7 linked regions of the Homo sapiens genome follow. The protein of the gene in region 3 purifies or fractionates together with the protein of the main gene of each other region. This does not show direct contact. Each region holds a gene or a part of one and is shown on either strand. Other genes may lie near its edges. The genes, in order: RCC1, RAI1, HMGN5, KDM5B, TOP2B, MACROH2A2 and NAA40.

Region 1 (3,500 bases), on a different chromosome or scaffold from region 3:
CTGATCACCTGAGGGGTCGGGAGTTCGAGACCGGCCTGACCAACATGGAGAAACCCTGTCTCTATTAAAATTACAAAATTAGCTGGACATGGTGGTGCATGCCTGTAATCCCAGCTACTCGGGAGGCTGAGGCAGGAGAATTGTTTGAACCTGGGAGGCGGAGGTTGCAGTGAGCCGAGATCGCGCCATTGCACTCCAGCCTGGGCAACAAGAGCGAAACTCTGTCTCAAAAAAAAAAAAAAAAAAAAAAAAAGGAAGTAATCAGAATATCAGAATTATATTTTTTTCTTTTCTTTTCTTTTCTTTTTTTTTTTTTTTTTTTTTTTTTTTTTTTTTTTTTTTTTTTTTTTTTTGAGACAGAGTCTTGCTCTATCACCCAGGTTGGAGTGCAATGACACAATCTCGGCTCAGTGCAACCTCTGCCTCTCGGGCTCAAGCAATTCTCCTTCCTCAGCCTCCCGAGTAGCTGGGATTACAGGCATGCGCCACCACACCTGGTTAATTTTTGTATTTTTAGTAGAGACGGGGTTTCACCATGTTGGCCAGGCTGGTTGTGAATTTCTGATCTCAGGTGATCCGCCCGTCTGGGCCTCCCAGAGTGCTGGATTGCAGGCTTGAGCCGCCACGTCTGGCCTCTTTTCTTTTTTCTTTGTTTTGAGACGGAGTCTCGCTTTGTCGCCCAGGCTGGAGTGCAGTGGCGCGATCTCGGCTCACTGCAAGCTCTGCCTCCCTGATTCACGCCATTCTCCTGCCTCTGTCTCCCGAGTAGCTGGGACTACAGGCGCCCGCTACAACGCCCGGCTAATTTTTTGTATTTTTTGGTAGAGACGGCATTTCACCGTGTTAGCCGGAATGGTCTCGATCTCCTGACCTCGTGATCGCCCGCCTTGGCCTCCCAAAGTGCTGGGATTACAGGCATGAGCCACCGCGCCCGGCCTCTTTTCTTTTTTAATTAGAGACGAGATCCTGCTCTGTCACCCAGGCCAGAGTGCAATGGCATCGTCTTAGCTCATTACAGCCTCAACTTCCTGGGCTCAGGTGATTTCTTCCACCTCAGCCTCGCAAGTAGCTGGTACTAGAGGCTTGTGCCACCACGCCCAGCTAATTTTTGTATTTTTTGTAGGGACGGGGTTTCACCGTGTTGCCCAAGCTGGTCCTGAGCTCAAGCGATCTGCCCACCTGGGCCTACCAAAGTGCTAGGATTACTGGCATGAATTACCATGCCTGGCCCAGAATAGTATATTGAGTGCCCATTTACTTGCCACACAGTTTCAATGATTATCAGCTTGTGGCCAGACTTGTTTATCTCTATTTGCATCCGCTCTCTGACTCCTTGATTATTTTAATGCAAGTCGCAGACCATAAATGATTTCATTCATAAGTATTTGAGTATGTGGCCTGGCTCCTGCCCACTTCTCCATCCCCATCTGGTGCCACTGCCCTTCTGGATTTCACTGGCACGGGGCAGGCAGGACTGGCTGATAAGTGCCCTGTCCCTCCCTTCTAGGACAATAACGGTGTGATTGGACTGTTGGAGCCCATGAAGAAGAGCATGGTGCCTGTGCAGGTGCAGCTGGATGTGCCTGTGGTAAAGGTGGCCTCAGGTGGGTCTGGGGGCACTTGCTCAGGGCAGGAGTTGGAGGACCTTGTTCTGGGGCTGGCCTAGCCTTGGGCCTTACAGTTGTGGCCTGCATCCCTTACCTTTTCATCCTTAGGAAACGACCACTTGGTGATGCTGACAGCTGATGGTGACCTCTACACCTTGGGCTGCGGGGAACAGGGCCAGCTAGGCCGTGTGCCTGAGTTATTTGCCAACCGTGGTGGCCGGCAAGGCCTCGGTAAGTGGCCTTGGTACCTCCAGCAGGGCAAATTGGCAGGCCACCCCCACAGTGAAGGCCAAAGGCAGGAAGGATTTGCTGTGGTCAGGCTTGCATCAGATGGGCTTGTGGTGTTGGTTAGGACTTTGGAGACAGACTGCTCTGGTAGTTTTGCCACCTACTGTCTATGGGACTCTGAACATAGTTTCTTCATCACTAAGTCTACCTACCTGTAAACCTACTTCATTAGGTTGCTGTGAAGTTAAATGAGTTAATGAGAAGAATATCAGGCAGATGGTAAGTTCCACGTAAATGATACCCGTAATGACTGTGGGAATCTGAGCAAGGCACTTGTATTCTCTTGATCTCAGTTTCCTTTTCTATAAAATAGGGATAAGAGTCCCTACTTAGCCTCTCAAGGGCTTTTATAATGGAGGAGAATTAAACTCGGGGCAGAGAGAAGCCATGTGTGTCTGTCTGTCACTGACCGTGGCTTTCCCTTTGCCTGCAGAACGACTCCTGGTCCCCAAGTGTGTGATGCTGAAATCCAGGGGAAGCCGGGGCCACGTGAGATTCCAGGATGCCTTTTGTGGTGCCTATTTCACCTTTGCCATCTCCCATGAGGGCCACGTGTACGGCTTCGGCCTCTCCAACTACCATCAGCTTGGTGAGCCCCGAGCCCAGCTTCAGGCATGACCCAGTGGCCTGCGTTCCTGTCCTGGCTCTGCCACTCATTCATTGTGCATCCTTTGCGGGGTCGTCTAACCCCTCCAAGCCAGTTTTGTCATCTGTAAAGTGAGAATGTCCATATCCTGATGGGAGGTGGCCTCACTGTGGGAGGAGATTGAGAAGGGCAGCTCTCAGAACACCTTCACCCCTGATGGCTCCGGCCTTTCCCCCAGGAACTCCGGGCACAGAATCTTGCTTCATACCCCAGAACCTAACATCCTTCAAGAATTCCACCAAGTCCTGGGTGGGCTTCTCTGGTGGCCAGCACCATACAGTCTGCATGGATTCGGAAGGTAGGGCCTTTACGTCCTTCTCTAGTTTGGGGGTGGAGTGTTCCCTGGCCTAGGCCTAGCCAGATTCCTGAGACCATGGTCCTTGGAGCCTGGGTCTGTTCCATGGGTTGTACCATACATGGGTCCATGAGAGTCACTCTCATCCTCCTAGAGTCCTGGTGTTCTTCCAAGTGTGAGTTCAATGGGGGCCCATGTAGATTCTCCTAGGCCTCCTCCAAAACTGGGAAGAGACACTGCAGATCTCCTTCTGATCGCTCTGGGAGCAGGGACACACTCCCATGGACAGGTGGACTCACCTAGCCTGCCACCCATTTTGCCTGTAGCACGCCCTCTGCTATTGCTCATCTCTCTCCCTCCTCCCATAGGAAAAGCATACAGCCTGGGCCGGGCTGAGTATGGGCGGCTGGGCCTTGGAGAGGGTGCTGAGGAGAAGAGCATACCCACCCTCATCTCCAGGCTGCCTGCTGTCTCCTCGGTGGCTTGTGGGGCCTCTGTGGGGTATGCTGTGACCAAGGATGGTGAGTGGGGCTGCCTACACTCTGTCTAGTTGGGACCTGGGGGTCATGGTTCTTACCCAATTCCCCAATAGGCTGTGATGTCCACTCTCGGGGGAGCCGAGGTACAGAGAGCAGTGTTTGTGATGGCACTTTGTTCCTGCTTC
Region 2 (3,500 bases), on a different chromosome or scaffold from region 3:
AGCAGGTGCCCAAGACACACACTAGGAGGCGTGGGTGGCAAACACAGTGGGCCCCCACCGGGACCTTGGTTTGGCCAGGCAATGCCACGGCAACTGTCAGGAGCAGGGGCTGCTCAGAGGGGCTGCAGGGGTGTACTGCGAGGAGCAGGTGGGCAGTGCAGCGACGGGGGAGGAGGCTGGGCAGGGGGAGGGGCGAAGCCACCGGCTGGGGCCACTGTGCTGGGTCACTGAATCACTCAGATGCAGGCAGTGTTTGTCCAGGGCCTCTGGAGACCCCTGCCAAGCCCCTCTGGCTCCCCTGTGACCTCAGCCGCACATAGTGGGTTGAAGGAAGGAGTGGAGGGGATGGGACTCAGGGCAGGGGCCAGAGAAGGCTGCAGGCGTCCCCACTGAGAGCCACCACACAGCGCTGAGAGCCGGGAGCGTCACTCCACGGAAGTCTGGATGAGGCAGTGGAGTCGGGGTTGAATGTGGGGGCAGAAGCATGGCCCCGGGGGAGAGGTGCACCCCACCGCCCCCACTGACCCCTCCCTCAGAAGGGCACAGAGGTACTCTATGGTACTGGGGAAGTGGTGACACCACGAAGAACGTCACCCTGCTGTCACCAGAGCCACCAGGCCCCTCTGCACTGACTATCACAGGGCTGCTGTGCTCGGTGGGCTCAGAGGTGCCCACCTTTTAACCCTCCCGACCCCTCCTCCATGGGCACCCTCATACCCACGTTAGGGGCGAGGGGACGGAGGCACAGAGAGGGCAGGTCACAGCCCCAAAGGTGCATGGCGGCACAGCCCCAGAGTTCCCTCTCTCATGTTGGTGCTCAGTGACTATGGCTTCCAAAGCTGGTCTCAGAGCCAATGGTGAGAGGGTCTGGATCTGCCCCGCCCTGCCTGTTGTGACTGTGTGACCCCATGGACTGTCCTGCAGAGGGAGGAACCCTGTGACTGGGTCCATGCACCAAGCCTGTGTCGCCAGAGAGGGTCTTCCTGAGCCCTTAGCTTCATCCCAGAGGCAATGGAGACAGGAACAGAGGGTGGGCAACTTGCTCTTGCACCGCCCGGGGCAGCCCTGATGTTCAATCTTGGGAGTCCTCGTGTTCTCTGGGCCTTGGCATCTCCGGTGACAGCATGGGGAGGGGCCCAGTGGATTCTGGGTGGGGCTGGAGCCTGAAGATGCCAGGTGAGTGGGAGAGTGGCGGTGGCTGGGCATACGGGCCCCGGCGGGAAGTCTCCTGGGACAGGGTAGGTGAGTGTGACCTGCCTTAGCCAGATGGGTGCCTCCACTTCCCCCACACACCCCAGAGAGGCTCAGGACTCTGCAGATTGTCCCGAGACTGCAGACACATTTGGCCCACACTGTAGCACTAGAAACAAGGGGCTCCCCGACTGCCTGCCTGCCTGTCCTTTGGAACCCCACACTCCCCACCCTGGCTGGGCTGGCCTCTTACCATGTCCACGGCCACCTTCATGGCCTCCTGCAGCCCAAAGAGCTTCCCGGCCACCAGGTAGACGCCGCCGGTCCACACGGCACAGGCCTCATGCACCCAGTGCTCCTGGGCCTCCCCGCCGGGCTCTGCCGGAGCCTCCTTGCTGCACTCATGTTTGCGACCCTTGTCGGCTGGGGCTGCCTCCTCGCCCCCATCCTCCCGGCCATCACAGCAGTAGCAGCTCTGCAGCCTCCGGGACAGGCCCCGGGCACTGGTGCGCAGTGGGCCCTGCTTGGCCGGGTCAGCTGGGCCGTCAGGCCTGGGGGGCTTCCCGGCAGTGGCGGCAGCTGCACACTCGGGACCTTTGAGTGTTCTCTCAAGCGGCAGCGAGGCCTCCTCACAGGTGCCTTCTGGCCGCACCTTCTCCTTGAGTTTTGGCTTCTTTTTGGGGAGGCAGTGTTCAGGGTAGTAGGGCCCACAGAGGTCCCCAAGGTCCTTGAAGTTGGCCGGGTTTTGGCAGAGGCAGCAAACAAGGCAAGAGGTACTCAGGGCCTTGGAAACCACAGGCCCCAAGTGCATCGTGGAGGAGAGGGGCAAGGAGGGCCGCGGCTGCAGGATGGAGCCTCCAGGGAGTGTGGCCAGGGAGGCCCCGGCTGCATCCAAGGAGAACGAGGACGAGGATGAGGAAGAGGAGGCAGAGGAGGAAGGCTTCCTGTGGGGCTTGGGCGCATCTCCAGGGGAGTTGACAACAGTGCATATGGTGGTGAACGCGTCTCGCTTCTCCACCCGCACGAAGGGTGAGAAGGCGGGGGTCCGGCTGTCTGACCTCAGCCGCTTGCAAGAGGAAATGTACTTGAGGCGGATTTCAGGCTCTGCGGGATCCAGGGGCAGCACCTGCTGCTGTCGTCGTCGCTTGGCACGCCCCTTACAGGGTGAAGAGGTGGTGTTCTTGGCCCGGCCCCGAGTGAGGCGCTTCCGCTTGGAATAGCTGCTGTAGTTGGTGTGGCCTGGCTGTTTCTGTGCCCTTGTCTGGGGCTGGCAGGGCCTGCCCTCCGGGGGCTGGGAGGCCAGGCCCAGCTCCTCCATCTTTGGCTTCTTGCCTCCTCCACCAGAGTTGTCCTCACTGGCCCCTTGTGTGCCACTGGCCCTGTCTCGGGGAGTCAGGAGCAGAGCCGGGCCAAGATAGGGCCGCTTCTCCAGCGGGCCTTTGGAGAGTCCATGGGCCCCTGCCCGGCCTTTCCGGCTCCTCTTCTTAGGCGCCAGGGCAGTCCCCCCAGGCTGCAGGGCCTCCGGGGATGTGAAGGCCTCGGTTTTGAAACAGTCAGTAGAAGACAGTTTCTTACTGTTCATGAGTTTGCCTTTTAAGGATCTGTTGGTTGGATTTCTGCATAACGGATCAGCCCCAGAAGTTGGGAGCTTCTGCCCGGTGCCCACATTTACCAGGCCTTCTTCCACCCCCACTGGGCTGCCCCCAGCACCCTTGAGCCCACGGTCTTTGTCGGAAAGGGATGGGCTCAGAGGATTACCAGGAGAGGCCCCTGGCGCTTTACATGCGAACTTCTTGAGGCTGGGCGAGGTGATCTTCTGCACGATGGCTTCCAGCTTCAGGCCCCGGCCCTTCCGGGGTGGCAGCACCTTGGTCTTCATGGCCCCCTGGAAGGCTGCCCGAGAGGCGAGCTTGAGGCAGGCATCGGGGGTCTCCGGGGGTGGGAGCTTTGTGGCAGGCTCGCCATTGCCCTTGGTGGGCTTGGCTTTCTTGGGAGAAGACATCCTCTTGAAGAGGGTGGGGGAACCCTCAGGCCTCTCCTCCTTCCCATCTCCCCCATTGCCACTGGCGTTGCTGCTGCTGCTGCTGCGGCTCCGCAAGACCAGGTTCCGCTTCTTGGTGGGGACCGGCGCCATGAAGGCCGACTTCCTTTTGAGCGCATGGAGGGGCCGGTCAGAGAGCTTGCTGCCTGCACCAGGTTTGGGGACCCTTGCCCGCTGGCTCACCCTGCCCTCCTTCTGGGGGCTGCTGGAGACCTTGAATGTGGCGGGCAAGTGGCTGTTGTCGAGGAGCTTCTTGGTGGCACGGCAG
Region 3 (3,500 bases):
TGAGGGTGGGTAAGCATCTCCCAGTCCACTGACTCATATGTTAATCTCCTTTGGCAACACCCTCACAGACACACCCAGGAACAATACTTTGCATCCTCAATCCATTCAAGTTGACACTCAGTATTAACCATCACAGAGGGTTAGAGTGACTTCTGAGGTTTTAAGGGGTTTAAAATTCCACCCTATCCCTATCCTGTCTCTTTCCAATGATAACCAAATTTATTCGCTCCTCCTCTGGAGTCAGTGATACCCAACGGAAGAGTGGGGCAGTAACCCTTACTCAAACTATCAGAAGGTTTTGGAAATAGGGGATGCTCCTGAGTAGAGCCTTATTTTTCCTTGAGACCATTTACTGTTACTGCTCAGGGACAACGCATGAAATGACATTCTATCCCTCTGCTGGAATTCTGTAAAGAGCTAATAAAAATTACATCTCTTAAGTCCGGCGCTTCAAAGCCTTCCACATTGTTTTTCTATAGCTGAGTGGCGCCCTCTAGTGGCTCTAATCATGAACGTACCATCTGGGATGAGATCAGACCTCTGAACACAATACTTCAGGACTCCCTCTGGTAAGGAGTCAATGTTGCTTCCTGCTGATGCACATCACTACATAGCAGGTGACTGAGACAGGATAAGAATTCTTAAGCATAACACTCTGTTACTTAACCTACCCTATCTCCTCTGCAGATACTCCCCTTCTGCTGGCACTTGAAGAGAACAACAGTATATCCTCCAATGTGCGGTAATTTTGTATGTGATTTACATATTTATGTGTTAATGTGTTGTGTGTTAATAGAGAAAAAATTTTATATTACTGGTCTCCCATCTGCCAGAGGAGGCAGGAAGGTGGGCACTAGGGCATCATTGAGTGATGTTGTTGGTTCTTCTAAAAATCAAGGCTCTTTGAAGACCACCAAGACTCCAGACATTCTTACTTTGGAAACGGGAAGATTTGGTTACGCTTTGTGTCCCCATCCAAATTTCATCTTGAATTGTAATCCTCATAATCCCCACATGTCTAGAGAGAGACCAGGTGGGAGGTGACTGGATCATGGGGGTGGTTTCCCCCATGCTGGTCTAGTGATAGTGAATGAGTTCTCATGAGATCTCATGGGTTTTTTTTGTTTGTTTGTTTTTTGTTTTTGTTTTGTTTTGTTTTTTGAGGAGTTTAGCTCTGTCGCCAGGCTGGAGTTCAGTGGCGTGATCTCGGCTCACTGCAACCTCTCCCTGCAATTCTCCCACCTCAGCCTCCTGGGTAGCTGGGATTACAGGCGGCCACCACCACGCCTGGCTAATTTTTGTATTTTTAGTAGAGATGGGGTTTCACCTTGTTGGCCAAGATGGTCTCAATCTCCTGACCTCATGATCTGCCCATCTCAGCCTCCCAAAGTGCTGGGATTACAGGCGTGAGCCACTGTGCCCAGCTGATCTCATGGTTTTATAAGGAGCTCTTCCCCCGTTGCTCCTCCCTCTTCTGTCTCCTGCTGCCATGTGAGAAGGTCCAAGCTTGCTTCCCCTTTGCCTTCCACCATGATTGTAAGTCTCCTGAGGCCTCCCCAGCTATGCAGAACTGTGAGTCAATTAAACCTCTTTCCTTTATAAATTACCCAGTCTTTGGTATTTCTTTATAGCAGTGTGAAACAGACTAATACACACCACTTCACAGTGTATCAAACATAAAAATGCAAATGTACTTATAATCCCACTTAAATATAAATATTAAGCATATTCTAAAATTTGTATAACTTTGTTTTAAAATTTAAAAAATTTTCAGCCACAAGCAATTCATTAAAATATGCTCGACAGTGATTTCTCTGCAGAAACAGGAATTCTGCTTATGTGAGATAAAAATGTAAACTCCAAATTGTTTTCAAATGAAATGAAATTTTTACAAATAGTAAACTTAATATTCAATGAAGTTGACATGATAATGTTTTTCAGACAGTTCATTAAACATTTCTACACCATAATTTTGTAGTGTTTTGTAGGTAAATAATATTTTAACTTTCTCAAAAGTTTAAAAGTAGGTAAAATTTCTGCTTCTGGAAAAGGTGGGGATAGGTGATCTGGAACTCTCTTGATAAAGGGAATTTAAAATATTGGAAGGTATTTTATAATACATGAAAAATATCAAAGACCTCAAGAGGAAAGTGAGGAATTATCAGGGCGAGAAAAGAGGGTGAATTACAACTCCAAAGAGCTCAGTGATGATAAAGAGTGCTTCTGCTGAGGGGGTATTTGCTGATCAAGAAAATTCAGCTACTTTTGGTGTGGCAAATGAAAATAACTCACCTGGAGACTCTTAGTTCTGAGTGAGGGGTGAGAGCATAGCAGTGTCCACTTGAGAAGGGAAAGGGATGTCATACTACGGTAGTATAAGACAAATTATGTTCATTTTGCAAAATGAAAAAAAAAAAACAGAAGAAAGAGTCTCCTGTTGCATAGGCCGAAAAGTGCAATAGCAGTAGCCCTGATGTTGGCAATGAGGAGGGTGACTAGATCATGCTGACTTACTTTTGCCTGATTATTTGTATAAAGATTTTGAGTTGTGTCTAGCAAAGGCAAGAGTTGGATAAGTGGAGAGGGCAGAAAAGGTTATGAGAATGTGGGGAGAAGGTGAAGAAAGAAACAGGAAGAGCAAAGGCATGAGAGTGATCATAAGCATGATGATTGCAGCAGGTAGTCAACAATGATTACGTACATAGGGAAGTTAGTTTGGGGGAGCACTAAGTAAGATTGTATGAATAGTGTGGGCCTAGATTATGGTGAAAACTGTTTAGCAACATAATTTAGGTTTAGTTCGATAGTCAATGGAGAGCTAATTTAAGTATTTCTGCCTACGTTGTCTTCAGTAATATAAGAAAGTGGTGTTTTAGGATGAAAAAATTGCTAACTTTTTTTTTAGTACTTTCACTCTTCCAGGCAGTGAGTTAACAGTAATAGTTAAGAAGGTGGCCTCTGGAGGCTAGCAGCATCCTGATACCAAAGCCTGGCAGAGACACAACAACAAAAAAGGAGAATTTTAGGCCAATATCTCTGATGAACATCGATGTGAAAATCCTCAGTAAAATACTGGCAAACAGAATCTAGCAGTACATCAAAAAGCTTATCCACCACGATCAAGTTGGCTTCATCCCTGGGATGCAAGGCTAGTTCAATATATGCAAATCAATTAATGTAATCCATCACATAAACAGAACTAATGACAAAAACCACACGATTATCTCAATAGATGCAGAAAAGGCCTTCGAAAAAATTTAACAGCCCTTCATGCTAAAAACTCTCAATAAACTAGGTATTGATGGAACATATCTCAAAATAATGAGAGCTATTTATGACAAACCCACAGCCAATATAATACTGAATGGACAAAAACTGGAAGCATTCCCTTTGAAAACTGGCACAAGACAAGGATGCCCTCTCTCACCAATCCTATTTAACATAGTGTTGGAAGTTCTGGCTAGGGCAATCAGGCAAGAGAAAGAAAGAATGGGTATTCA
Region 4 (2,213 bases), on a different chromosome or scaffold from region 3:
TCACTGGAGAATGAAGCAGGGAAATTCAGGTTTTTAACAACCTCCATCACCACAAGTGGCATCTCTCCTTTAGGTTAACTTAAGATAGAAAAATGAATCCCACCTCCTAGGATACTGAAACGAAGCTGTAAAGAAGTCAACTTCCTTTACATAGTCCAAATTACATAACCTTTCTCCAGGATAGAGGCTACATATAATCAAGCCCTTTATTCTATATAAGAAATCCCCCAAAGTCTAATCTGGAAGGAAAAACAAAAAACAAACAGTATTCATTTAGGTGAGGTGGAAGGCACACCTCATCTACCCTTTCTTTCTTTACCCACTGACCCTCCTTCTGGTTCAGGCTCTAACTTAACACAGTCCCTTCCCCTCTCCCACCTCACAAAGCTGCAGGACTACTGAGATGGAAACTGAAGTGTCAGTTTCCATGTGCATTTTATCATTTTCCCCTACAAGTTCAGAGGTTTCTCTGGTACAGGCCAGCTTCACAGCTAACACACAATGAAACATGGTTTTTAGATCACATCAGTCTGTAGTCATTTTAGGGATACAACAAAGGCATAAACTGGAAAGTAAACGTTATCTGTGTTCATTAGTAGTGTGATGGTGTACAAGGTAGGAGGAATACTGTAGGAAAACTGGAAGATAAAACCCAGGCTTTGTTATTTACTAGTAGTACAGTGTAGCTTTGGGCAACTGACATTCTCTTTAAATTCAGCATCATCACACATAAAATGATCAGTGGTTCTCATCCAGGGAGGGAGTGGTTCAAATACACACATGCCTACCTTTTCTAACTCACTCAGAGATACAAAGATCTGACTTCCTCAAAGATGCTATTGTCAGGGACTGTGTACCACCACCCACAGGTGAAGAAGAAAAACTAGTGGGGATGGGGGTAGGGGTTGTGCTTACTAAGATGGCAAAAGCTCTCTAAAGGCAGTGGCTTTATATTAGCAGCAGGGTCTCCTTTTAAGCTTAATTTCTCAATGGAAGGTGAGGACTGGGACAGTTGGCATCCTATCTCAAAGTCGGGGGTGATGGAGGGGATTCTAAGAATTTGAATACTAACAAGGCCAAACCACGATGATTCCAAATTGTACTCTGGAGACTATTCTTCTCTATTGGCCCCAGAACCACCATCAGACGAAGAGAAACATCACAACAACTGCAGAAAACTGCAGACAACTAGAAGTCATTCTTAAAGAGATTTAATTATTTGAAGTGCATAAAAGGGGAGGGTACATTTAAACCTCTGCTATATCACAAACTGCTGTTTTTGTTGTTGTTTTATTAAAGACCCACCAGTTTTACTCATCTTCAGGTTTATGGCTATAGAATGTGGGGAAAACAAAAATTGGCAACAGAATAGGAAAAGGTAAGCAAAAGTCTGGTCACCAGAATGTCTTCTCCACTGCAGAACAGACCCCTTTAAAAAAGAAAAGCAAGGAAAATAGCTATGGGCTATCCACAGCCAGTAATGATAGCTACAGTTAGAAAGAAATGAGAAAGGAAACCAGGAGGCAGAGTCTGGGAATTCACAAGTCTCCTCTCAAGACATATACTAAACCCGGACCTCTGTGAGGATTAATTTTCCTTAGATTTCCTTCCAACGTCTTAACCCTAAACCAAGTTCCCCTGTCAATTCAAATATAATAAAGGCAGCATTCCACAAGGAAGACTGATTTGAGGATTGAAGTGATTTGCCAACATTCTGAGAAAGCTTATTTTAAAAGAGCACGGCTTTAAAGATAGGTTCTAGTCCTTGAAGACAGAGGGGTTCTTTGTTAGTGAGGGCTGTAGGCATATGGCCCACCAAACAGAGCAGGACACAAAAGAAGAATCCCCTAATGTTGTTTGCAGGCTAACATCCACTGCTACTGCAACCTGGTTGGGCAGAGGCAAAAGCAAGCAGCCCCTTCTGGCTGTGCAACAGTAGAGGGGCAGAAGAAGCTGTGCTCTAATGGCTCTAAATAATCAGCATTTAGTGTTATGTTAGGACGAAGGATTTATTCCACAATATAAACTGTAACATTTGATACAAGCTACCAAAAAATAGGGGAGAAAGGAAGGGACAGGGAGAAAGCCAAAATACAGCTGTGGCAATTACTTACAGAGAAGTCTCTTTTCTACATCACTAGTTCATCAGTGACACTAGAAACTAGACATTTGTGTTCTGTACATCAATCAATCGCTAAAGCACCAACACACTG
Region 5 (3,957 bases), on a different chromosome or scaffold from region 3:
CCAATAATAACAAACATCATTAAGCCCAGCACTGTGCTACACACGTTATCTCATTTCATTCTCAATGCAACCTTATTTGACAGATAAAAAAACAGGCTTAGAAAGGTTAGGTTCCTTGGGAAAAGTCCAACTAAATGTGTTGGAGAGACAGTATCTGAACCTACATCAGCCTGACGTCAAAGCCCATAACTACCTCACTATATTGCCTCCCATAAAATCAAACCAGTCTATATGATCAATGATGTATATTATGGACATAAAGATGCTCATATAACCTTAGAGTAAGCATCAACTCTTAAAGAAGACTTACAGGAGTGATTATCTTTTTAATAAACTTCTAATTCCATAAGATATACTCTATAAATAAAACACTAAGTGATCTTCACTTCTCTTTATTTTACTGCATTTCCCATATTTTCCATAATCTGCTTTATAATGAAAATTCCTTTAATCAATAAGTCAATTTCAGTTTCAAATGGATTTTTCTATCTTGAATGAGATGCTCCAAGTTTTGCTAAATTAGCAATGAGTTTCCTATGGAGCTTGAAAGAAATAAATTGTCATTTAATTATCTACAAAATTATATAACAGTTAATTAAAGTACTGCTATCAAATGTTAAAGCCAACAATCCACTACGGAGCAAAATGTTTACCATTATAGAACCAGAGGTCTTCAGAGGAAACACCGATCAGGCCTCAACACTTCCAAATAGTGAATGAGAACTTACAATACCATTTGGCTGTCTAAGTCAATTTTCCGATGTCTGATTTTAGTGACAGGGGTAAAAGCCATTAATTCTGAAAGTCATTATTTTGCATGTATGTGTCCATCTCCTCCTTCTTCCTCTCACATACCCTCTACTGCAAGTCCACATGGACCACTAACTTAGTATCTGACATTTTCTCTCCTGGCCCTAGTCCCTTCATACTTTCATTCTACATAATCGGAGTAATATACAACATTCAAAGAATTTCAACAATAAGAGCATGGCAAGTTATTTTGCAATGTACCCTGGCACGCAAACATAAGTGATTAAAATGTTTTGCTGCTGTCAGTAGCACCCTTTTTATAAGAAGCAGTTGTCAATATAGCACAAATTGCTATTCAACTCACCCAAACCTCACCCAAACAAAGAGAAAACGAACTAAGTAACAAAAATGCCTATATGAAAGCTCCCTTGAGGTATTTAAAACAGGGACGGGGGAACAGACCGTCAAAAGTCCAGAAAAATGTAACACTTTTTACTTTTCTCCGAAATACCTAGGTTTTCTGTATAGGAAATGACCCTGGTCTGAACTCTACGCTGAGCAAGTGAAATGCCGGCGAATTATCGATCTGTCGTGGGAATCCAGTCTCCCTTCCTCCTTCCGCTGCAGTTACTTCTACTTCCCAGCAAGAACTGAGCGTCGAAATCCTTTAACTTCAGGACTAAGCACTTCAGTCACCTCTCCAGGACATCCATTCAGCCCTCACCCCGTTACACCTGCGATGCTGACGTAGACAAGCACTTCTTTTAATAATCTCACCCTGACAGAGGGACGACCTACAGTATTAACTGCTGTGAAAGTCATCCCCAATGCGCTCTCAATTGAGCGCATTGAATGAGGCTTTCCAAATTGAAGTGCAAGTTGCTGTAGAAATCCCAATGCATTCTTCTTTGAGATTAAAGCCCCAGAAAGAGCTGCATTTAGAATACACACACACACACACCCCTTTTCCCAGGGTTTTCTTGAACTACATTTGGAGAAAATGCTGCCCCACACAGACACACTTGCATTATCGCCATCCCCACCATTTCAGGTTCGGCTGCCCCGGAAGAGTCTGGTTAAAAAGAAAAGAGAGGAAGCGGGGGCTGTATGTTACGTTCGCGGTTTTGTCCCCCCAAAGTTTCAAGTACACATTACGCTCTGGCAGTCAGGACTTCCAGAGACGTACAGAGAAAGAAAGAAAGAAAAGGCGCGGGGAGCGGGCTGGAGGATTCTGCAAGCACAGGCCCCTATGGAGCGCCCGTTCGGGGGACGGGATTTCCCTCCCTTTCCCCTCCCCCGCCCGTTCGGAATTCCGCCCCCGCCGCGGGCCCGGAACAATGCAGCCGCCCGTCCCGGGGACCAGCCACTTACCACCCAGGTCAGTGCCCCGTTGCCGCCGCCCACGCCGGCTCCCGCGCCGCAGCCACCCGACTTGGCCATGGCGAGTGCCTCCAGCTCACAGGCCCTGAGGCCGCAGCCGCCGCTCCCGCCTCCCTGCGGGCCGCTGGGCCCCGCCGCTCCGCACCCACCGCTCCACTCGCCGCACTCCTAGCCGCGCCGACCCCCGCGCCCCATCGCGAAGATCCGGAGCGGACGTCCAGCCGAGCCCGCTGAGGAGGCCGCGCCGCCGGCTGCCCTCAAACTCGAGGCGCGGCGTCCGCGTCGCCCGGGCCTAGCGCGGCGGCTGAGGAGAAAGCAGGGAGCGACCGGCGGCGGCCGAGCGGCGGCGTTGCCTTCTCGCCCGCCCGCGGGCGCCGCTGCAGGCCGGGCTGAAGCCCGGGCGTGCGAGCCGCGAGGGCGGCCGGGGAGCCCGAGGCGCTCGGACGTGGCGAGGACGCAGAGGTGCCTTGTCCTTCTCACACTCCGCGAAGGCCAGCCACTCGAGTCGCCAGAGTAGTCGTCCCGGTCGCCGCCGCTGCTTCAAAGGCAGCCTTAGCCTCGCTGCAGCCCCGATTTCCTCACACACACACACCGAGAGGGACAATAAACAGAGCCGCCGCCGCCGCCGCCACGGTCACCTCCCTCTTGTCCGGCATAACACCGCACACACACATTTGCACACCGGGGAGAGAGGGAGGGCGCGGCGGCCGCCCCCGCTGTCAGTCAGCGCCATGCTGTCCAATCCGGGCCTTGTCGCCACAGCCTCTCGGCCAATCCCAAAATTCCAAGCCCCCTGGAGGGGCGGGACCCGAGGGGGGAAACGTCATTGCGGGTAGCAACCGAAAGGAAGACTTGGGGTTTTTGTTTGTGTGTGTGTCTGTGGGTTTTCCATTTGAAGGGAGAGCAGGGGCTGCTTCAAGGGTCAATTGAGGGCGGCAAAGGGAAAGGGTCGAATTGGCCTCGGGTCGATTGTAATCCTCCAAGCGTGCTGTTTACTCTGAGACCTAACCGGGAATCCGAAGCGTTTGCCTGGGGCCTCTAAGGATGAGGATGGGGGCGGGGTGGGGATGGGGGTGGCAGGAAGAAGCCGGGGGCCGTCCCAAAGGGAAATTATTTTAAAAGAGCGGTTGTAAACCGCAGGCAAGACGTTGTAGACCACTGGTGCAAGGAGGCCCCGTGACCCGGCCTCCCCAAGGGCCTAAGTGGACGCTGCTGTCGAAAAAAATCATCTCAGACCTTCTCCATCTCCTTCTTCCGTCTCCTCCCCTCACCCCAAAAGAGCATATGGTCAGTTTCAAGAAAACTACATATGAAAAGCTTAAATGATAAGGGACACACAGAGAATGTTCTAGGGAAAGAATGCAGGGTGGGTTGAGTGTTCTATTTCTACTCTTTGTTGACCTTTCTTCTCTGAACAATGCAGAGATGTCACTGTCACTTTTCTCATCTGTCCAGAACTGTGCCCCCTGCCTCTAAGAGGGCATGCTTAATTTTTAAAACTGTTTTCAGTGGAATTTTCAAATGCACAGTAAGGAATAATTTCATTCACATTAAAGCTTTCTAAGAATGAAAATTACCAATACAGCAACATCACAGTCTTTGGCAGATGGAAGATGGCTTTACTTCTTCCTGTTTTTCAGTGTAATTCCACTCAAGTATTTATTGGGCGCACACTCTGCCACGCTGTGCCAGGCTCTGCGATGGGTTCAAAGTAAAAACAAGGCCCCTGATTTCAAACCATTTATAACCTGGCTTGTGAGACAGACTAAAAGGGAGCCAACGATCACCAAAATGAGTACTTGAAGGCATGAAGTGCCACCAAAGAGT
Region 6 (3,500 bases), on a different chromosome or scaffold from region 3:
TGTGCCACTGTGCCTGGCTTAAACAAATGTTTAAGAAACTTGACATTTATGATGTAACTGGAATTGGAACACTGGTAATTTGTTGATATTGCTATCTTTTTAAGGGTACAATAATGGTATTGTGGCTGTGTTGTTAGTAAACAGCCCTTATCTGTTACAAGTCATTGTGAAATATTCATAGATAAAATGATGTCTGGAAGTATGTGGAGGGGGTAAGAGCTGAAACAAAGGTGGCCATGGGTGGTGATTATTGCATCTGATTGCATAGGGTTTCATTATACTTTTCTGTTATTTTTTGTGTATGCTTGACTTTTCCCATAATAACATAATGTTTTGAAAAGAGTAAGACAGGGCCTTGGCTGCTGGGATGATTAGTTTGGGTGATGGTGGTGGAAAATGGAATCGTAATGGGAGGGACTCCTCCTAACACAGCAGCAATAAAACCACTGTCAATTACTAACTGCCTAGGAGCCCAGCACTGTGCTAAGCCCCATCACAGCACCCCTATGGGACAGGTACTATTGCTATCCTCCCTTACAGAGGAGGAAACGGAGGTTCAGGGAGGTTTAGAAACCTGCCAAAGGTCAGCTAGGAAGCAATTCAGAAAAGCTGGGACAGTCCAGGCAGGCCGACCTGGAACCTGCCCTCTTAACCACCTGACTGCCTTTAGCCCATTTCTCCTCCCAAGACCCTGAAGCGGTTGGCCTTAGAATCCACTGCTGGGATCTGAGCGTGAATTTTTGCTCCCAGACCAGTGCTCTTTCTACTCTGCCACCATGCCAATTAAAAAAAAGAAGCATATTATTTTTCTTACATAAAAATTTCATTACTATAGAAATGTGTAAAGTATGAACACTGCAATGTGTCAGTGAGAGGCAGGACACCTATTAAAAGAGCTCCAGATGAAGGCTACTAGAGGGCGTCCTTCCATGGAGAGTGGAAGGAGACCTGTTTCTCTGTAATGCTGACTTTTCCCAGGGCTGTCCTATCTCCTTTTCAGCACAGCAAGTGGCCTCTGATGCCAGGAGGAAGCCCTGAGTGAGTCCAGCTGCCTGGGGCCCCTGGTGCTACCAGCCAGGGCTGAACTACTAGCATCTACCTCAAATTGCCTCCCTCACAGGCAAGCCCTGTACCCTAGAGACAAAGCCCCTTCTTTGCTCACTTTACCCTTTCCGTGGAGAGTTTAAGGCAGTTCTGCTTGGTAAAAATGGATGGGATGGGGACTGTTAGCATGCTGTTATTTCCAGCGCCCATAACAGCTTACCCTCCCAAGCTCCTCCACCCTGGCTATTAACAGCTCCCTCTGCCACTCGTGGGACAGGTGGCAAACCACAGGCAAAAATAACTCAATGCTCATAGCTTAATGGACAATCTAATTTTTTTCTAGATGTCCATTTCCCTTTTATCAATAGCACTCTCAATATTTAAGCTTACGATATATGTAAACATGTACAACAATATTTATAGTAGCACTATTCACTATAGCTCAAACTGGAAACTACCCCAAATGTCATCAGTGGTAGAATAGATCAATAAACTGTCATATATTTATAGAGTGTAATACTACAGAGCAAGGAAAATGAATGAATACAAGCATACTCAACGACATGGATAGATTTCACAATACTAAGTTGAGCAAAAGGAGTCGGACCCAGAAGAGGACAAGATTTCATTTTTACAAAATTCAAGACAGATGAAACCCATCTCTGCTTTGATAAGAAAGGACAGTGGTTACCCTTGGAGGAAATACTGACTGGGAGTGGGGCTGAGGGAGACTTCTGGGGTGCTGGTAAGGGTCTGCTTCAGGATCTTGGTGCTGGTTGCAAAGTGGGGTTCACTTTGAGAAAAATTCATCAAGCTCTATGCTAATGATTTGCTTTTACACAATACCCCAATAAAAATTTCAAAAATATATGCAGAATTAAAACAAAGTTAGCTTCTCTCTAGTGAAACTGTTCAACTACACATAAAGACAGAGCTTGACATGGGACCCCAGCGGAGGGACAGCCAGTTGACAATGATCAGCTTCACAAGAACTTGCCTGAACAGTGGCCTATTCTATGGCACTTCTACTGAAGTCTCAGGACCTTACCTATATCTTCTTTGAGGTCAATTTCGGCTGTGGTTGGGTGGACAATGCCCTCCACTCTCATGGAGCCAATATGGCTGATGTCACTCTGGGTTAAGGACAGCTGCATTAGGAAGAAAAGGTGGTGAATGTGGAAAAGATAAAATTCTGTTGAAAAATCTCATATTTTACTTGCATTCATTAATTCTCTTTAATTATTCATACCCAATGTCAACATAGGGGCTGCATAGAGAGTGACAACCTCCAGTTTCCCAGGTGTTTGGCTTGCAATAAGCTCTTTGAGCTCAGTGGATTTGCTTTCCACTCTGGGGCTGGCAGCATGCAACAAATCCATTTCTTCTTCCCTGGAACAGGAACAGGGCCTCCCCTCTCTTTTTTTTTTTTTTTTTGAGACGGAGTCTCACTCTGTCTCCCAGGCTGGAGTGCAGTGGCGTGATCTCGGCTCACTGCAAGCTCTGCCTCCCAGGTTCACGCCATTCTCCTGCCTCAGCCTCCTGAGTAGCTGGGACTACAGGCGCCCGCCACCATGCCCAGCTAATTTTTTGTATTTTTAGTAGAGACGGAGTTTCATCGTGTTAGCCAGGATGATCTTGATCTCCCGACCTCTTGATCCACCCGCCTCTGCCTCCCAAAGTGCTGGGATTACAGGCGTGAGCCACCGCGCCTGGCCCCCTCTCCTTTCTTTCTTTCCCTTACAGCTCATGCCTTTGGTTCCCAACCCTGGTGGCCTTAGTTTTCAGTGATGCATCTTCTGAGAAGCTCCTGCAAGGAAGCCCAGGGCTTGCTCTCTCTTCTCCCCTCAGCATCCTGCATTCTCCCTAGAAGAACACAAAATCTGTGGGGCAGGGCTCTGAAGCCAATAACCTTGCTGGAGAGAAGTAATGGGCTCTGGGATTCTGACCTGGGGGTGTCTGGCTCCCTTGCCCTTTGGAGACCACAGTCTTGGGGCTACCATTGGGAATTGCTATCCTATGTGTTCACAGTAGAGTGGAATGGAGGGCATTCTCTATTGTTGGCCCATGTGAGCAAGACCTTTATGTTGCCTTAGCTAAGTGAGAGAAAGCTAATCGTCATGTAACAGTGAACAGGCCAGAGAGGGGACATAAATTCCACCTCTTTGTTTCCCTGCTTTCATCAGTGACGAATTAGCAACCAGCCACACCGATGCTCTTCTTAGAACATACTCTTCCCAATTCTTTGAATGGAGGCTTACTGTGTTGTCAAGATGGAAACATTCAGCTACCAGAGATATGATTAACTGACTCTTTCCTTGGGTGTCTTATTTCAGCCCCAGTTGACTTGGTAGATAAATTGTCTGCTCAGTAAACTTTACACTTGTAGGAATGAATTATTTGCATGTCTGGTTGGGCTGCTGTTGTGTTGCTGAAGACTGTTCAAATGCATAGCCCTG
Region 7 (3,500 bases), on a different chromosome or scaffold from region 3:
AAGACCCTGTCTCTACAAAAAAAAAATTTTTTTAATTAGCTGGGCATGGTGGCACATGCCTGTATTCCCAGCTACTGAGAAGGCTGATGTGGGAGAATTGCTTGAGCCTGGGAGATGCAGGCTGCAGTGAGCCATGGTAGCAGCATTGCACTCTAGCCTGGGTGACAGCAAGATCCTGTCTCAAAACAAAACAAAAACCCAAAAACCAAAAATGGTTCTAATAATAGTACCTTTCTCATGGACTTGTCAGGAGGATAAGATGTAAAGTGTTAGTTCCTGCAGCATAATAAAAGCTAGATAAGTGTTTGCTGTTATTTTATTTTAAAATTTTATTTTAGATTCGCGGGGTACATGTGCAGCTGTGTAGTGGTGGGGTTGGGCATCTAGTGTACCCATCACCCAAATAGTAATCATCGTACCCAATAGGTAAATTTTCAACCCTCACCCTGTTTGCTGTTACTATTACTGATCCAGTTAACTATAGGCTCTGGAGTGAAGGCCCCCTCACGTTTTTTTCTCGTTTTGGTTTCTAAAATAGGAAGTATAATCTGCCTTACCTGAGATGCTGTTGATGAGTTGTGCTTCCAGAATGTAACATCTTGGCTTGGGGATAAACTGGGGCTCTGGGGGATTGAATTGTAGCTGGGCTTCTTAATAACTCTACTTGGAGAAGTCACTCATATTCCTCAAGCCTCATTTTCTTACCTGTCAAATAGGATGATGATGCCAAACTTGCAAGCTGTTTTTTTTTTTTTTTTTTTGAGATGGTGTCTTGCTCTGTCACCCAGGCTGGAGTGCAGTGGCGCCATCTCGGCTCACTGCAAGCTCAGCCTCCCGGATTCACGCCATTATCCTGCCTCAGCCTCCCGAGTAGCTGGGACTACAGGCACCCGCCACCACGCCCGGCTAATTTTTTGTATTTTTAGTAGAGATGGGGTTTCACCGTGTTAGCCAGGATGGTCTCGATCTCCTGACCTTGTGATCCGCCCGCCTCGGCCTCCCAAAGTGCTGGGATTACAGGTGTGAGCCACCGTGCCCAGCCAAACTTGGAAGGTTTTTTTTAAGGAAGAAAGAGAATATATGCAGCTCAGTAAGTAGCAGCTGGTATGAGGTTTTTTTTGTTTTTTTTTTTTTTTGAGACAGAGTCTCGCTCTGTGCCTAGGCTGGAGTGCAGTGGCACGATCTCGGCTCACTGCAGCCTCTGCCTCCTGGGTTCAAGTGATTCTCCTGCCTCTACCTCCTGAGTAGCTGGGACTGCAAGTACATGACATCACGCCCTGCTAATTTTTGTATTTTTAGTAAAGACGGAGTTTCGCCATGTTGGCCAGGCTGGTCCCGAACTCCTGACCTCAGGTGATCCACCTGCCTCAACCTCCCGAAGTGCTGAGATTGTAGGCGTGAGCCACTGCGCCCGGCCTGGAAAGTCTTTTGACATACTTTAGATATCCCATATTGTGATATCTCATAGTGTTTTCGTTTTTGTTTTTGAGACAGAGTCTCGCCCAGGCTGGAGTACAATGGCATGATCTTGGCTCACTGCAACCTCTGCCTCCCTGGTACAAGCAATTCTCCTGCCTCAGCCGCCGGAGTAGCTGGGATTACAGGCACCCCCCACCACGCCCGGCTAATTTTTTGTATTTTTATTAAAGATGGGGTTTCACTATGTTGGCCAGGCTAGTCTCGAACTCCTGACCTCATGATCCGCCCGCCTCGGCCTCCCAAAGTGCTGGGATTACAGGCGTGAGCCACTGTGCCCGGCCTCATAGTGTTTTCATATTCCGTATTCCCATTGACTTCCAGAAATGTGGAATAGCTCCAAAACAGGCATTGCCAGCCAAGTCTGGGCTCCTCTGGTGCCTTGAATTTTGTGTGGTTCCTGTGGTTGTGATCTTACTTTCATGTACTTTAATGGAGAATTCGTACCTGCAGGTGGGCTTTGGACATTTTATAGTTAAGATAGGTGCAGTGCTGTGTTTGGGCAGCTGTGATGGCTAAGTGGGTGATAAAGAAAGGAAGATGCTTCAGGGGCAGGGAGTTCTGAATTCATAAGGCTGAGTGTGGTGTGCCAGTCAGTAGAGGTGATGGGATTCCAGTGCGTACATCCTCTGGGGGTTGTGTCAAAGGTCACTGAAAGGTATTGATACGGGAGCTCTTTAAAGGCTTAGAGTTTGCTGACTCTAGTCCTTTCAGAATGTAGTGCTCTCTAGGGAATGTGATTTCACAGATCAGTCAAGGAGTTTAACTGTTTTTTACTTAAATTTCATTTAGAAACAGATACCTTAACACTTAGGCATTTGTGGGTTTAGAAAAACAGTGTTGGGCTGAAGCCTGCTTCACCCGGTTTTTTTTTGTTTGTTTGGAGACAGAGTTTCGCTCTCACTGCCCAGGCTGTAGTGCAATGGCACGATCTTGGCTCACTGCAACCTCCGCCTCCCAGGTTCAAGCGATTCTCCTGCCTCAGCCTCCCGAGTAGCTGGGATTACAGGCACCCACCACCATGCCCAGCTAATTTTTTTGTAGTTTTAGTACAGACGGGATTTCACCATGTTGGTCAGGCTAGTCTCGAACTCCTGACCTCAGGTGATCCATATGCCTTGGCATCCCAAAGTGCTGGGATTACAGGTGTGAGCCACCATTCCTGCCTCAATCTGTTTGATCAGCTGAGAGTATCCCCCCTGCTCAGATGAGGCAGGCAGGACTCCTGGGGCGGGGTGGGGCGTGTTGAGCCGTAGTCTTCTCGAAGGACCTAGGGTCACCCAGTGGTTTTGAAGGCGCAATTGGTAGATAAGAGGAATGGGGTCCCATGGGAGCCTAGTGAGGAGTCAGCTCAGAAATTACAGCAACAGGAAAAATGCCTAAGGGCAGGAACTAAATAACAGAAGACATGAGTGTTTATAACAAAGTACAGAAGAGACAGAAAAGGTAGAAAAAGAATAAAGAGAGAGCAGAGAGGGACAAGAAGTTTACAAAGTGCCGAGGCGGATTAGGACAGCTTGGGGAGGCAGGAAACGGGCCTTGTGGTTGGGGGGTGGGCCGTGTGGCCACAGTTGTTAATCTCAGCCTGAAAGACTTTGTTCCTGCACCTTCTCTAGTCATGCTGGGGCAGATACAGGGTTGGCTTTTCTCTGTGCAGTAACTGAGACTGGGCCTTCCTCCCTGTGATTCTGAGGGAGGAACAGCAGTGCCCTGGCAGGAGTGCTGTAACCAATTCCGTACACGTCCTGTCCTCTTCTCAGGTTGAATGTCTCCATTGAATGTAAGCGAGTGTCTGGACTGGAGCCAGCCACCGTGGATTGGGCCTTCGACCTGACCAAAACGAATATGCAAACCATGTAAGCTTGTCCCAACCAGGGGAGCCTAGTTCCTCTCGCAGCTTTCCCGTCTGACTGCTCCCAAATTCCCCAGGTATGAGCAGAGCGAGTGGGGCTGGAAGGACCGAGAGAAACGGGAGGAAATGACAGATGACCGAGCCTGGTACCTCATCGCGTGGGAAAACAGCT

The links.
Region 1: the proteins of HMGN5 (region 3) and RCC1 purify together in Homo sapiens (affinity purification with mass spectrometry; one large-scale study listed by BioGRID and IntAct). This does not show direct contact.
Region 2: the proteins of HMGN5 (region 3) and RAI1 purify together in Homo sapiens (affinity purification with mass spectrometry; one large-scale study listed by BioGRID and IntAct). This does not show direct contact.
Region 4: the proteins of HMGN5 (region 3) and KDM5B purify together in Homo sapiens (affinity purification with mass spectrometry; one large-scale study listed by BioGRID and IntAct). This does not show direct contact.
Region 5: the proteins of HMGN5 (region 3) and TOP2B purify together in Homo sapiens (affinity purification with mass spectrometry; one large-scale study listed by BioGRID and IntAct). This does not show direct contact.
Region 6: the proteins of HMGN5 (region 3) and MACROH2A2 purify together in Homo sapiens (affinity purification with mass spectrometry; one large-scale study listed by BioGRID and IntAct). This does not show direct contact.
Region 7: the proteins of HMGN5 (region 3) and NAA40 purify together in Homo sapiens (affinity purification with mass spectrometry; one large-scale study listed by BioGRID and IntAct). This does not show direct contact.

Annotation. Positions count from the first base shown.
Region 1 is NC_000001.11:28,533,543-28,537,042, forward strand, and holds part of RCC1 (regulator of chromosome condensation), read left to right. Parts: intron 1-1,507; coding exon 1,508-1,604; intron 1,605-1,715; coding exon 1,716-1,838; intron 1,839-2,328; coding exon 2,329-2,484; intron 2,485-2,719; coding exon 2,720-2,839; intron 2,840-3,204; coding exon 3,205-3,357; intron 3,358-3,500. UniProt on the Homo sapiens protein: Guanine-nucleotide releasing factor that promotes the exchange of Ran-bound GDP by GTP, and thereby plays an important role in RAN-mediated functions in nuclear import and mitosis.
Region 2 is NC_000017.11:17,796,458-17,799,957, reverse strand, and holds part of RAI1 (retinoic acid-induced protein 1), read right to left. Parts: coding exon 1,445-3,500; intron 1-1,444. UniProt on the Homo sapiens protein: Transcriptional regulator of the circadian clock components: CLOCK, BMAL1, BMAL2, PER1/3, CRY1/2, NR1D1/2 and RORA/C. Positively regulates the transcriptional activity of CLOCK a core component of the circadian clock.
Region 3 is NC_000023.11:81,195,414-81,198,913, forward strand, and holds part of HMGN5 (high mobility group nucleosome-binding domain-containing protein 5), read right to left. Parts: intron 1-3,500. UniProt on the Homo sapiens protein: Preferentially binds to euchromatin and modulates cellular transcription by counteracting linker histone-mediated chromatin compaction.
Region 4 is NC_000001.11:202,726,209-202,728,421, forward strand, and holds part of KDM5B (lysine-specific demethylase 5B), read right to left. Parts: 3' UTR 1-2,213. UniProt on the Homo sapiens protein: Histone demethylase that demethylates 'Lys-4' of histone H3, thereby playing a central role in histone code. Does not demethylate histone H3 'Lys-9' or H3 'Lys-27'. Demethylates trimethylated, dimethylated and monomethylated H3 'Lys-4'.
Region 5 is NC_000003.12:25,662,108-25,666,064, forward strand, and holds the start of TOP2B (DNA topoisomerase 2-beta), read right to left. Parts: upstream 2,801-3,957; 5' UTR 2,191-2,800; coding exon 2,122-2,190; intron 1-2,121. UniProt on the Homo sapiens protein: Key decatenating enzyme that alters DNA topology by binding to two double-stranded DNA molecules, generating a double-stranded break in one of the strands, passing the intact strand through the broken strand, and religating the broken strand.
Region 6 is NC_000010.11:70,094,346-70,097,845, reverse strand, and holds part of MACROH2A2 (core histone macro-H2A.2), read right to left. Parts: intron 2,193-3,500; coding exon 2,093-2,192; intron 1-2,092. UniProt on the Homo sapiens protein: Variant histone H2A which replaces conventional H2A in a subset of nucleosomes where it represses transcription. Nucleosomes wrap and compact DNA into chromatin, limiting DNA accessibility to the cellular machineries which require DNA as a template.
Region 7 is NC_000011.10:63,949,002-63,952,501, forward strand, and holds part of NAA40 (N-alpha-acetyltransferase 40), read left to right. Parts: intron 1-3,236; coding exon 3,237-3,332; intron 3,333-3,405; coding exon 3,406-3,500. UniProt on the Homo sapiens protein: N-alpha-acetyltransferase that specifically mediates the acetylation of the N-terminal residues of histones H4 and H2A.